2 separate regions of the Homo sapiens genome follow, and region 2 is linked to region 1. Evidence: fine-mapped expression QTL. A gene starts in region 1. The other region holds a variant in brackets. All regions are shown on one strand. Distances are between the middles of the regions.

Region 1 (5,378 bases):
ATACTTCATGTGAAGATAAGCAATGAGATCCTTCTTGCTGTCTTTCTTTTGACTGTTCTGGGCAATATCAAATTAGTTTCAGTGGCTTGATTCTAGGCCAAGATTCTGGCAACAGATTGTAGTCTTACCTTGTTTTCTTCAATCTCACTGGATCTCTCTCTCTTTTTACCCCCCTTAGGCTGAGGGTAAAAAGCTGGGATTGGTAGGCTGGGTCCAGAACACTGACCGGGGCACAGTGCAAGGACAATTGCAAGGTCCCATCTCCAAGGTGCGTCATATGCAGGAATGGCTTGAAACAAGAGGAAGTCCTAAATCACACATCGACAAAGCAAACTTCAACAATGAAAAAGTCATCTTGAAGTTGGATTACTCAGACTTCCAAATTGTAAAATAATGGCCTGAATTTAAGTTTTCTAAGATAAACTCAGTGGTTTGGTTTTTATTATTAATAGAGATAGAACTATTGTGTGTTAATATTAGCATTAGTCAATAAGTTATTTTAATGTCAGATTTTTGAATGTTATTATATATTACCTGTATGATGGAAGGATTACCACTGTACACAAATCTAATCAATAAAAACGTTAGAACCTTCTGCTTAGAGTACTTTTAAAAAATCTTCAGTGAACTTCCTTTTGGGCGAAATGAGAGGTCTTTATTCAGTAAACATTTGTAGGAAGAGGATTTTGAGGTAATTTAAAGAGGTCTGAAAGAAAAAAAGTCTGAGTCATTTCTTTAAATGGTTTCTATGAAATGTTCTTCAAGAAATTCCATGCCTAATAAGAACAAATACCACAAGTTCAATTTGTTAGCTCTGTTCACCTTATGTTTGGATGAATTACTTCTGCTGTTGTTTCTTTTCTCTGGGTAAGGAATTCACATAAAGTTATGTTATGGGCTGAACTGTGTCCCACCAAATTCATATGTTAAAGTCTCAGTCCCCAGTACCTCAGAAAGTGACTGTATTTGGACATAGGGCCTTTAAAGAGGTGATTAAGATTAAATGAGGCTGTGAGGGTGGGCCCTAATCCAATCTGACTGGTGTTCTTATAAGAGAACATATTGGCTATAGACACGTGTGCAAAAATCAAAGACCCTGTGAAAATGGCCATCTACAAGCCAAGGAGAGAGGCCTCAGGAGAAATCGTTGCTGCCAACACCTTGATCTCAGACTTCCAGTCTCTAGAACTGAGAGGAAATAGACTTCTGCTGCTTAAGCTACTCAGTCTGAGGTATTTTGTTATGGCAGCCCTAGGTATAGTAATAATCATAAACAGTTATCAGGATTTTGCTTAATCAGCCCTAGAAGACTGGTTGGTTGGGTTTGGTTAGTCACTAAACTAGCATATATCAAATGCTTACCAGGTCTGACAAATTCGTTATAAATTCCACTTTAAATTCTCAATGAAAATGAGATAGAAAGCAAAAACTAAGGACTGGTTAACAATTCCAAAACACTTTATTCTCACAGCATTCTCAGAGTTCTGCTCTCCTTTAGTTATTTTTATAACTAAAAGCTGTGGTGGCACTGGGGAGATTCAAGTCAGTGAAGAGAGTCTTGGTGTTGTCATCTGTAAATTAAGAGTTGAGCAAAGGCCGGGTGCGGTGGCTCACGCCTGTAATCCCAACACTTTGGGAGGCCGAGGCGGGCAGATCACCTGAGGTCCGGAGTTCGAGACCAGCCTGACCAACATGGAGAAACCCCCGTCTCTACTAAAAATACAAAATTAGCCGAGTGTGGTGGCGCATGCCTGTAATCCTAGCTACTCGGGAGGCTGAGGCAGGAGAATCACTTGAACCCTGGAGGCGGAGGTTGCAGTAAGCTGAGATCGCACCACTGAATTCCAGCCTGGGCAACAAGAGCTAAACTCCGTCTCAAAAAAAAAAAAAAAAAAAAAAAGAGTTGAGTTAGACAGTTTCTCAGCCTTTTCCAGCTCCAAATGCCATAATTCTAAGATGGCAGGCTCTGGAATTATTCATTCATTCGGTGCCTACCATAGGCCAGGCACTGTTCTTGGTAACTGGGATACAGCAGTAAACAAAATATATAAACTCCTTACCTTCACATAGCTTACATTCTAGGGAGAGAAGACAATAAGTAAACACATAAAATATATATTGAATTAAACGGTAGTTAAGAGCAAAGGTGAAAATGAGAAAAAAAAGGAAAGGGAAAACACGGGAAAAAAAAATAAAAACAAAAGTAAAAGCTACGACATAGTCTTTAACACCATGCCAAAAGGGAATAAGGATTGAGACTGTAGGTACCGGTTCACTGAACCCTGGGATGCGGATCCTTGGCTGGAACAACTGGTGCGCATGCGCACTGGTGTCTCGCGGCCTGGCGCGCCCCCTCCGAAGCGCATGCTCGTGGGCACGCACGAGCCTCAAGATCCAAGGTGCGCGCGTCGGCGTCCGAGGCGGTTGGTGTCGGAGAATTTGTTAAGCGGGACTCCAGGTGACTCTGGGGGAAGCACGCGACGAAAAGATGATGCCGGGGTCTCTTCTAACACCAGAAGGGCCCTGATGATGGCTGCGCGCAGCTTTCGGAGCCGGATGCGCGAGGGCCCCGGAGGCCCGGCGGCCTGGCGGCCGGGCGGGCCCAGTTTGGGGACAAGGACGGGGCTGGCCAGGGAGGGGCTGGGCCTGGCGGGAAGGCAGCGCTGCCCCGGACTCGGCCCGCGCGGCCCTCCCAGGCCCCCGTGCCCTGGATCCAGGCCCGTGCGTCCCGTCAGTCCCAGGCGCTGGGAGGCGTCATCAGGAAATCATTGGGTTTACATTAATCGGAATACTTGTTAAACGTTTACCCGTCAGTTGCTGCCGGCTGCTTAGTGCATTAGCTTAGAAAGCAGCAGAAATTCTGCAGTTAAGAGCCCTGATTTGTCCCGAGTTTGGAAAACCGGCCCCACCGCCTGCAGGGGCCCACCCACGTGGCTCTCACTGATGGAGAAGAAGGGGAGACCTTTAATGGCACTGGAATCTTAGGGTTTGGTTTTTTTTGTTTTGTTTTTTGTTTTTGTGTTTTCACTTGCAGGAAAACTTAAAATCAAGTTCAGGCAGCCCCATGCCATCATTATTATTACCAAGGTAGTTTATGCCCATCTGTAAAGACCAAAAGAATATTAATAATGACCTTCTGGCCGGGCGCGGTGGTTCACACCTGTAATCCCAGCACTTTGGGAGGCCAAGGCGGGAGGATCACTTGAGTTCAGGAGTTCGAGACCAGGCTGGTTAACATGGTGAAACCCCATCTCTACATAAGAGACAAAAATTAGCCAGGCATGGTGGCGAGCGCCTGTAATCCCAGCTACTCGGGAGGCTAAGGCTGGAGGATTGCTTGAGCCCGGGAGGTGCAGGCTGCAGTGAGCCGAGATTGTGTCATTGCACTCCAGCCTGGGTGACAGAGTGAGACTGTTTCAAAAAAGAATAATAACGACTTTCTAAAAACATCAGAGTAATACATGAACAGGATTTAACAATCAAATGGCAAAGAAAGGTTTATATGAAAAGGAATTTTCCTGCTTTATCTTTTCCCATTCCCAGCCTCTTTCCCTGAGGTGACTATACTTAACCATAATAATAATAACCTCTTAATGCCCCCAATCTCTCTTTGATACAATTTGATTCTTAAAATTTCTTCCTATTGCTTCACCTTATTACAATGTCTTAGCAATTCATTATAAGTATTTTTCTAAAAGTCATGGTTATTGTGTAATGTATAAATGTTATGAAACTAGCTTGGACATTTTTGTCATGAATAATTTCTAGCTAATGTTCCTTAGCTGTATTTAATTTAGGCATCTGTTTTTGGTGAAGTGGTTAGAATTTCGAATACTGTGTTTACTGGTCAACTTCAAGTGTAATTATGATTTCACTTTAGGACATGTGGGATTTAGAAAGGAGCATTGAAAATTATGAAATTATGAATTTTTTTTGGATGTTAATCCATTGCACCAAGCATGAGCTGTGCCTAGAGATCAGCGGTATAACTTTGTTTTGCTTTGTTTCACAATTTGGTTTAATAAGAGTGATTTCATTTACCTCAAGTGCTATTTCTTCATAATGCTGTGTAATGCTAAAGCTTTGATTATGTGCGTGTGTGGTTTTTTTCTCCAATAGGCAATTATTTCCAGTCAGAGAAGGAAACCAGTGCCTGGCATTCTCACCATCTTTCTACCTACCATGATCAAGTGCTTGTCAGTTGAAGTACAAGCCAAATTGCGTTCTGGTTTGGCCATAAGCTCCTTGGGCCAATGTGTTGAGGAACTTGCCCTCAACAGTATTGATGCTGAAGCAAAATGTGTGGCTGTCAGGGTGAATATGGAAACCTTCCAAGTTCAAGTGATAGACAATGGATTTGGGATGGGGAGTGATGATGTAGAGAAAGTGGGAAATCGTTATTTCACCAGTAAATGCCACTCGGTACAGGACTTGGAGAATCCAAGGTTTTATGGTTTCCGAGGAGAGGCCTTGGCAAATATTGCTGACATGGCCAGTGCTGTGGAAATTTCGTCCAAGAAAAACAGGACAATGAAAACTTTTGTGAAACTGTTTCAGAGTGGAAAAGCCCTGAAAGCTTGTGAAGCTGATGTGACTAGAGCAAGCGCTGGGACTACTGTAACAGTGTATAACCTATTTTACCAGCTTCCTGTAAGGAGGAAATGCATGGACCCTAGACTGGAGTTTGAGAAGGTTAGGCAGAGAATAGAAGCTCTCTCACTCATGCACCCTTCCATTTCTTTCTCTTTGAGAAATGATGTTTCTGGTTCCATGGTTCTTCAGCTCCCTAAAACCAAAGACGTATGTTCCCGATTTTGTCAAATTTATGGATTGGGAAAGTCCCAAAAGCTAAGAGAAATAAGTTTTAAATATAAAGAGTTTGAGCTTAGTGGCTATATCAGCTCTGAAGCACATTACAACAAGAATATGCAGTTTTTGTTTGTGAACAAAAGACTAGTTTTAAGGACAAAGCTACATAAACTCATTGACTTTTTATTAAGGAAAGAAAGTATTATATGCAAGCCAAAGAATGGTCCCACCAGTAGGCAAATGAATTCAAGTCTTCGGCACCGGTCTACCCCAGAACTCTATGGCATATATGTAATTAATGTGCAGTGCCAATTCTGTGAGTATGATGTGTGCATGGAGCCAGCCAAAACTCTGATTGAATTTCAGAACTGGGACACTCTCTTGTTTTGCATTCAGGAAGGAGTGAAAATGTTTTTAAAGCAAGAAAAATTATTTGTGGAATTATCAGGTGAGGATATTAAGGAATTTAGTGAAGATAATGGTTTTAGTTTATTTGATGCTACTCTTCAGAAGCGTGTGACTTCCGATGAGAGGAGCAATTTCCAGGAAGCATGTAATAATATTTTAGA
Region 2 (5,378 bases), 36 kb after region 1:
ATTTTACTTCATTAAAACCTCTTTGTTTCACAAAGAAAAATATGAAGAAAGTTTTTCTCCATTGCTGAGAGCTGGGAATCTAGACTTAAAGTTCTGAGTCCCCTTGGATCCTTAAAACAATCTGTAATCTCTATTGAATCCAGAAGTTAGAAATCTAAACAGATTATAACAGCCAGACTTTGGAAATATTTGTATGCTACCTACATTTTCAATTTTTTTTTTTTGAGACGGAGTCTCACTCTGTCGCCCAGGCTGGAGTGCAGTGGCATGATCTTGGCTCACCACAACCTCCGCCTCCCAGGTTCAATCAATTCTCCTGCCTCAGCCTCCTGAGTAGCTGGGATTATAGGCATGCGCCACCACACCCGGCTAATTTTTTTTTGTATTTTTAGTAGAGACAGGGTTTCACCATATTGGCCAGGCTGGTCTCAAACTCCTGACCTTGTGATCCGCCTGCCTTGGCCTCCCAGAGTGCTGGGATTACAGGTGTGAGTCACCTCGCCCAGCCTGTATGCTACCTACCTTTTCATATTGCTAATTGAAGTTATTCTTTCTTCCCATAGATTAAACCCAACCTCACTAAACTTCGCAAAATGGCCCAGGCCTGGCGTCTCTTTGGAAAAGCAGAGTGTGATACAAGGCAGAGCCTGCAGCAATCCATGCCTCCCTGTGAGCCACCATGAGAACAGAATCACTGGTCTAAAAGGAACAAAGGGATGTTCACTGTATGCCTCTGAGCAGAGAGCAGCAGCAGCAGGTACCAGCACGGCCCTGACTGAATCAGCCCAGTGTCCCTGAGCAGCTTAGACAGCAGGGCTCTCTGTATCAGTCTTTCTTGAGCAGATGATTCCCCTAGTTGAGTAGCCAGATGAAATTCAAGCCTAAAGACAATTCATTCATTTGCATCCATGGGCACAGAAGGTTGCTATATAGTATCTACCTTTTGCTACTTATTTAATGATAAAATTTAATGACAGTTTGATTGGTTGCTTGGTTTGTTATTTGAAGGGTGTGATTTTTGTTTTTGTACAGTTTTTTTTCAAGCTTCACATTTGCGTGTATCTAATTCAGCTGATGCTCAAGTCCAAGGGGTAGTCTGCCTTCCCAGGCTGCCCCCAGGGTTTCTGCACTGGTCCCCTCTTTTCCCTTCAGTCTTCTTCACTTCCCTATGCTGCTGCTTCATGTGCTACATCTCAGACTTAAAGAGTTTCTCTACTACAGTGAAAACATTCTCTAGGGTCTTTCATCAGGCCTTTAGTTATTTTAGGGATAAAAACTATTGATAAAAAGGACAAGGATAGAACAGAGAAAATTTAAAGTCCTGTTCCGGGTTTTTTGTTATGTTTTCTTTAAAAACTCAGAGACTGATGTTCAATATCCCAAACCAGTAAAATGGTGAAAATACTATGAGCTTGTTTTTTAAAATATGATTTTTTTTGGTACTTTATAAAGTATCTCTTTATGTGAAAGCAATTGTCATATCAAAACACAGCATACATACGTTCAACCTAACCAAATATCTTTACACTTTTTCTTTCAGGAGACAAGGGTTCTTTGGGTCCCTTTCAAACGGTATCTTGGTGTTATTACATTATGCCTATCTATTGCCCTTATAATATCACTTGGGACCAGGACTGATCGTTCTGCAAATGCTTGTTATGCCATTCTCAATCTATTTTTCCCGCACCTTTTCACATGATTTGTGGTTAATAGGACTCAACAGACTAAAATTGCATAGTAGAAAAAAAATGCAAAAAGCCAGCTGGTAATGTTTATTGCAACTGGGGTGCTATACAATTAGTAAGATGATGCAATGAGAATTTCTACTTTTGTATTTCCTGACCAGCCTGCTCAAAGTGGCTTTTATATCAATTGAATGATTTTCCTCATTTTTTAATACAGGAAACCAATTCGTGCTCATGGAAGAAAAGTTCCTTTGCCAGCAGCCTTGAAGTGAATCTTACAGGAGCAATGAAAGTATTGCATTCATTAGCGTCTGCCCCAGAGAAGGTTCAGAGAAAACCTTCACTTGTTTTCAAGGGGATCCTTGTAGATTTACGTAATTGGAATCCTGAAGAACAGGCCCTACTGTCTAAAAAATGGCTTTTATTCTTCTAAATACATATAAACGGATGTTTTATAGATGGGAAGACATGACCTTAGAAAGGAGAGAGTTTTCAGAGGATTTGCCAGGCTGTCAGGGGCTCTGCCTCCAGGCCCAGTGTGGCAGTGTGGCCTCAGGGCCTCCGCCTCCCTGCTTGAGGGCTGCATGGAGGCCAACTGTCCTGGGAGTTGTAAAAATCTTTTAAGGCCAGACCAATTTGAGGGATTTTAAAAAGTGTCTCAGTGCCTCTTATGATTTCAGAAGGTTTTGCTATATGTAATCCCAACTACTGTTTTCTTGAGAGTAGCAGAGGATTAGAAAAAGTCCTCCATAAATTATGTAACCGGCCTTCCTGACTAGCCTGACTCAAGCAATGTAAGAGATAATTATTCTGTTTTCATAATTTATAAGTGTGGGGGCATGCCTCAGCATAAAAACAACCTATTAGGGAAAAA[T/C]ATCTAATAGATTACCTTTATCGCCTGTTAGGGTTTTATGTTGTTTTTAACTCAGATGCCATAAGAACAAAGATACATGTAATTTATAATAGTAATCATTAATACCTATATTGTGCTTTAAGGTTTACAAAATAATTTTTCTCATACTTTATCTTAGTTTAGTTTCTTGACAGTCCATGAGGTAAGGTGGTAGCTTTATCACCATTTTACAAAGTGGGAAACGAAGGTTCCTCTTAGGAACCTAGTTGTCACCTTTGTATAATAAAACTTCGAAGCTCGGAGCTGTTAACTGGTTTGCTGAAGGCTTAGCTGTAAGAGCCAGAATTCAGACCCAGGTCTGAGTGACTTCAAACTGCACAGTCCTTCCCATTATTACCCATATGCTATCCCTTATATTTTTAATTTATTAGGAATTCATTCATTTATAAACTTGGTGATTCACCTTTATTAGATTCTGGTCGCTGAAGGCTTTAGTAACTTCAGAGTAAAACTTGAGAGATGAGATGTAAAATGCAGCCATTCTTGAGAGTTCCTTTTTCTGTAACATTCATCAACACTTCATTGAGAAGTGAAGGTTCCTATGGCTGTCTCTACCTTCAAGAGGCTTAGCTTTAGTCACTGAGAAAGACAAGGAAACTAATGATAGAATATAGTAGCTTCTTCTGGCGTTAGGTATCACAGAGTCACAGCTAGTTACAGCTAGCCCTTTATTATTGAAAGAAGAGGAGCTAGCAGTCCCACTATCAGAATTAAGACTAGAGATGGTAATAGGAGCTAGTATCAGAAAAGCTTAAGGCAAAGCATAAAGTGTAGGCTAGAATGAAGCTGGAGAATGGGGAGGGGGCTTGGGTAACATCCAGAACCTGGCTGGGGACCTGGAACTACATGAGATGTAAGAATGGAGAGGTTCTAGCAGTCAGAGGTCAGGTACAAATGAACAGCTGGGATCTGCGCATGGCAGACAGTGAAAAAACCCAGGCAAGCAAAATGGTCAGAGCAGAAAGGGGCCCAAGGCCACGTTCTTGAGATGTGGAGGGGGCTGAGGAAGCCACGCCAAGTAAGGACAGATGCAGCTCAGCAGTTCCTAGCGAGCCCTGACAAGCCAGCTCAGCTGAAGCTTCGGGTGGGAGCCAGTCATGGCACAGTGGAGTGAAGGAAGAGCAGTTTCAGGCACCCAAAACCTGACCCCCACGACCTGTTTTCCACCTGAAGAGCCACCCATTCCATCCAAACCCTTGGCAAAAGTCTGCTAACAGAGAGAACCGGCCAGTATGCTGGCCAGTCGCGATCATGCCTGTCTTTACCCTCTAAGCTGAAGCTGCTCATCAACGGTGAGATGGCAAAAAGGTGGGTCCAGAAGAGGGGAAAAGAAGGGAGTCTGTGAAAACAAAATGCTGAAGAATCTGCATCAAATAAACCCTTCCTTCCTTCCTTTTTCCTTCCATCCCTCTCTTCATTCAGCAAATCTTCAGTGAGTTCCTTTCTAAATGTATTGTATCAGAACTTGTGGGGGATATAAAGAAAAAAAAGAGGTTATCACATGGCTTAGGATGTTTCCAACCCTTGGATCATTTTCACCCCAGGCCCATTAGTTACAGAGCACTCAGTCTTACCCAGAAGCATCGGATATAGTCCAGGCAACCGGATCCAAGCGTGTGGGAATCGCAGTGTGCTGCATGTGGGAATCTATCAGGCCAGGATGATTCAAGCAGCAGCCTGCAGAAGTGGGATTTGGCCAGCCTTGCCTGACTCTGGCCTTCCAACTTGCTCTTATCTACTTCCAAAGTAAGGAATGCCCCATGATGGGCCGAGCAGTCCAAAAAAAGTGGCTTGGAGTTAGCTACCGCAATTAGCAGTTTCTCATTATTCAACACTGCATTACCTCTTTTTCATATTAACTGCAGAATTTTATTTTTATGTATTTATTATCCTTCCAAACCCAGTGTTGTAGGAAGAATATTACATATAAATGATAACTTAGGAATCTTGTCAAGTTTTTGTTTCTTCAGCACTAAGTAGCTTATTTTCTAGGCAGGTCTTAATTCTAAATGTAACATGCTTGAAAAAAACACTATTGAAAGGATCCGTCTCTTCAGCATAGTATTTAATATACATATCAGGCAATCACCATCTCAAGCATGATTAGACTCAAGTGCTGCCCTCCATCGTGTGAGGGATGCTGGGAGACTGGAAGCTTAGACTTTAGCTCTTTAAGTTGGTGCAAAAGCAATTGCAGTTTTTACTATTAATAATAATAATTGCCTAGCCATTGTGCAGTACCTTGCAAGAGCTCTTTGGCAAATGAAAGAATAATTCAAAGCAAAGTAGGCCAGATATAAAACACTTCCAAATCACATTTCAAAATTGTTCTTTCATGTCAACTAGGTGCATGTCTGCTAAGGGAGTTTTTGCAAGGACAGGTGGATAGTGTGAGGCCTTTACAATAATCACATCACCATCTGGTACTATCTGTATGGCAGAGCAGTTCTGATGTAGTTGTAGTATTATAGATCATTACAGAGTATGCCAGTCATTCCATGATGGAACTGTGACTGGCAGCCTTCATTAGCCCAAAGACTGATGCAACAGATTGCTTTGAGAAATAGTTTTGAAGCACATCCATGAAACATATGATCCTATGGGTTCCAGCATTGATTTCTTTGAGGTATCATTTTACACTTCAGTTTTTCCTGGTAGAGTATTTTTCAGAGATGTCTCTTCTGAGGCTAAATTAGGAATTTCTGTTCCTTATTCAAGTTCCAAGAATTGTGCCTTTCCTGCCCTCTGCCCAAACTGGAAGATAGAAACCGTGGGAAAAA

What was found. PIP is the estimated chance that this variant, and not a neighbour inherited with it, causes the effect. A credible set is the group of variants that fine-mapping cannot tell apart.
Region 2: its variant is the best candidate, but not a certain one, in a credible set for the expression of MLH3 in whole blood (INTERVAL, PIP 0.69).

What each region holds. Positions count from the first base shown.
Region 1 is chr14:75,048,460-75,053,837 of GRCh38, reverse strand. It overlaps MLH3 (mutL homolog 3), which reads left to right and starts at 2,371. Exons shown (of 13, transcript NM_001040108.2): 1 at 2,371-2,458; 2 at 4,120-5,378. The coding sequence starts at 4,183. It overlaps ACYP1 (acylphosphatase 1), which reads left to right. Exons shown (of 3, transcript NM_001107.5): 3 at 179-595. The coding sequence ends at 394. RefSeq lists a silencer at 2,569-2,758.
Region 2 is chr14:75,012,387-75,017,764 of GRCh38, reverse strand. It overlaps MLH3 (mutL homolog 3), which reads left to right. Exons shown (of 13, transcript NM_001040108.2): 13 at 564-3,990. The coding sequence ends at 683. Among named protein-coding and RNA genes, the nearest start is that of EIF2B2, 12 kb to the right of the region's middle. The variant T/C (reference allele first, on the strand shown) is at 2,560.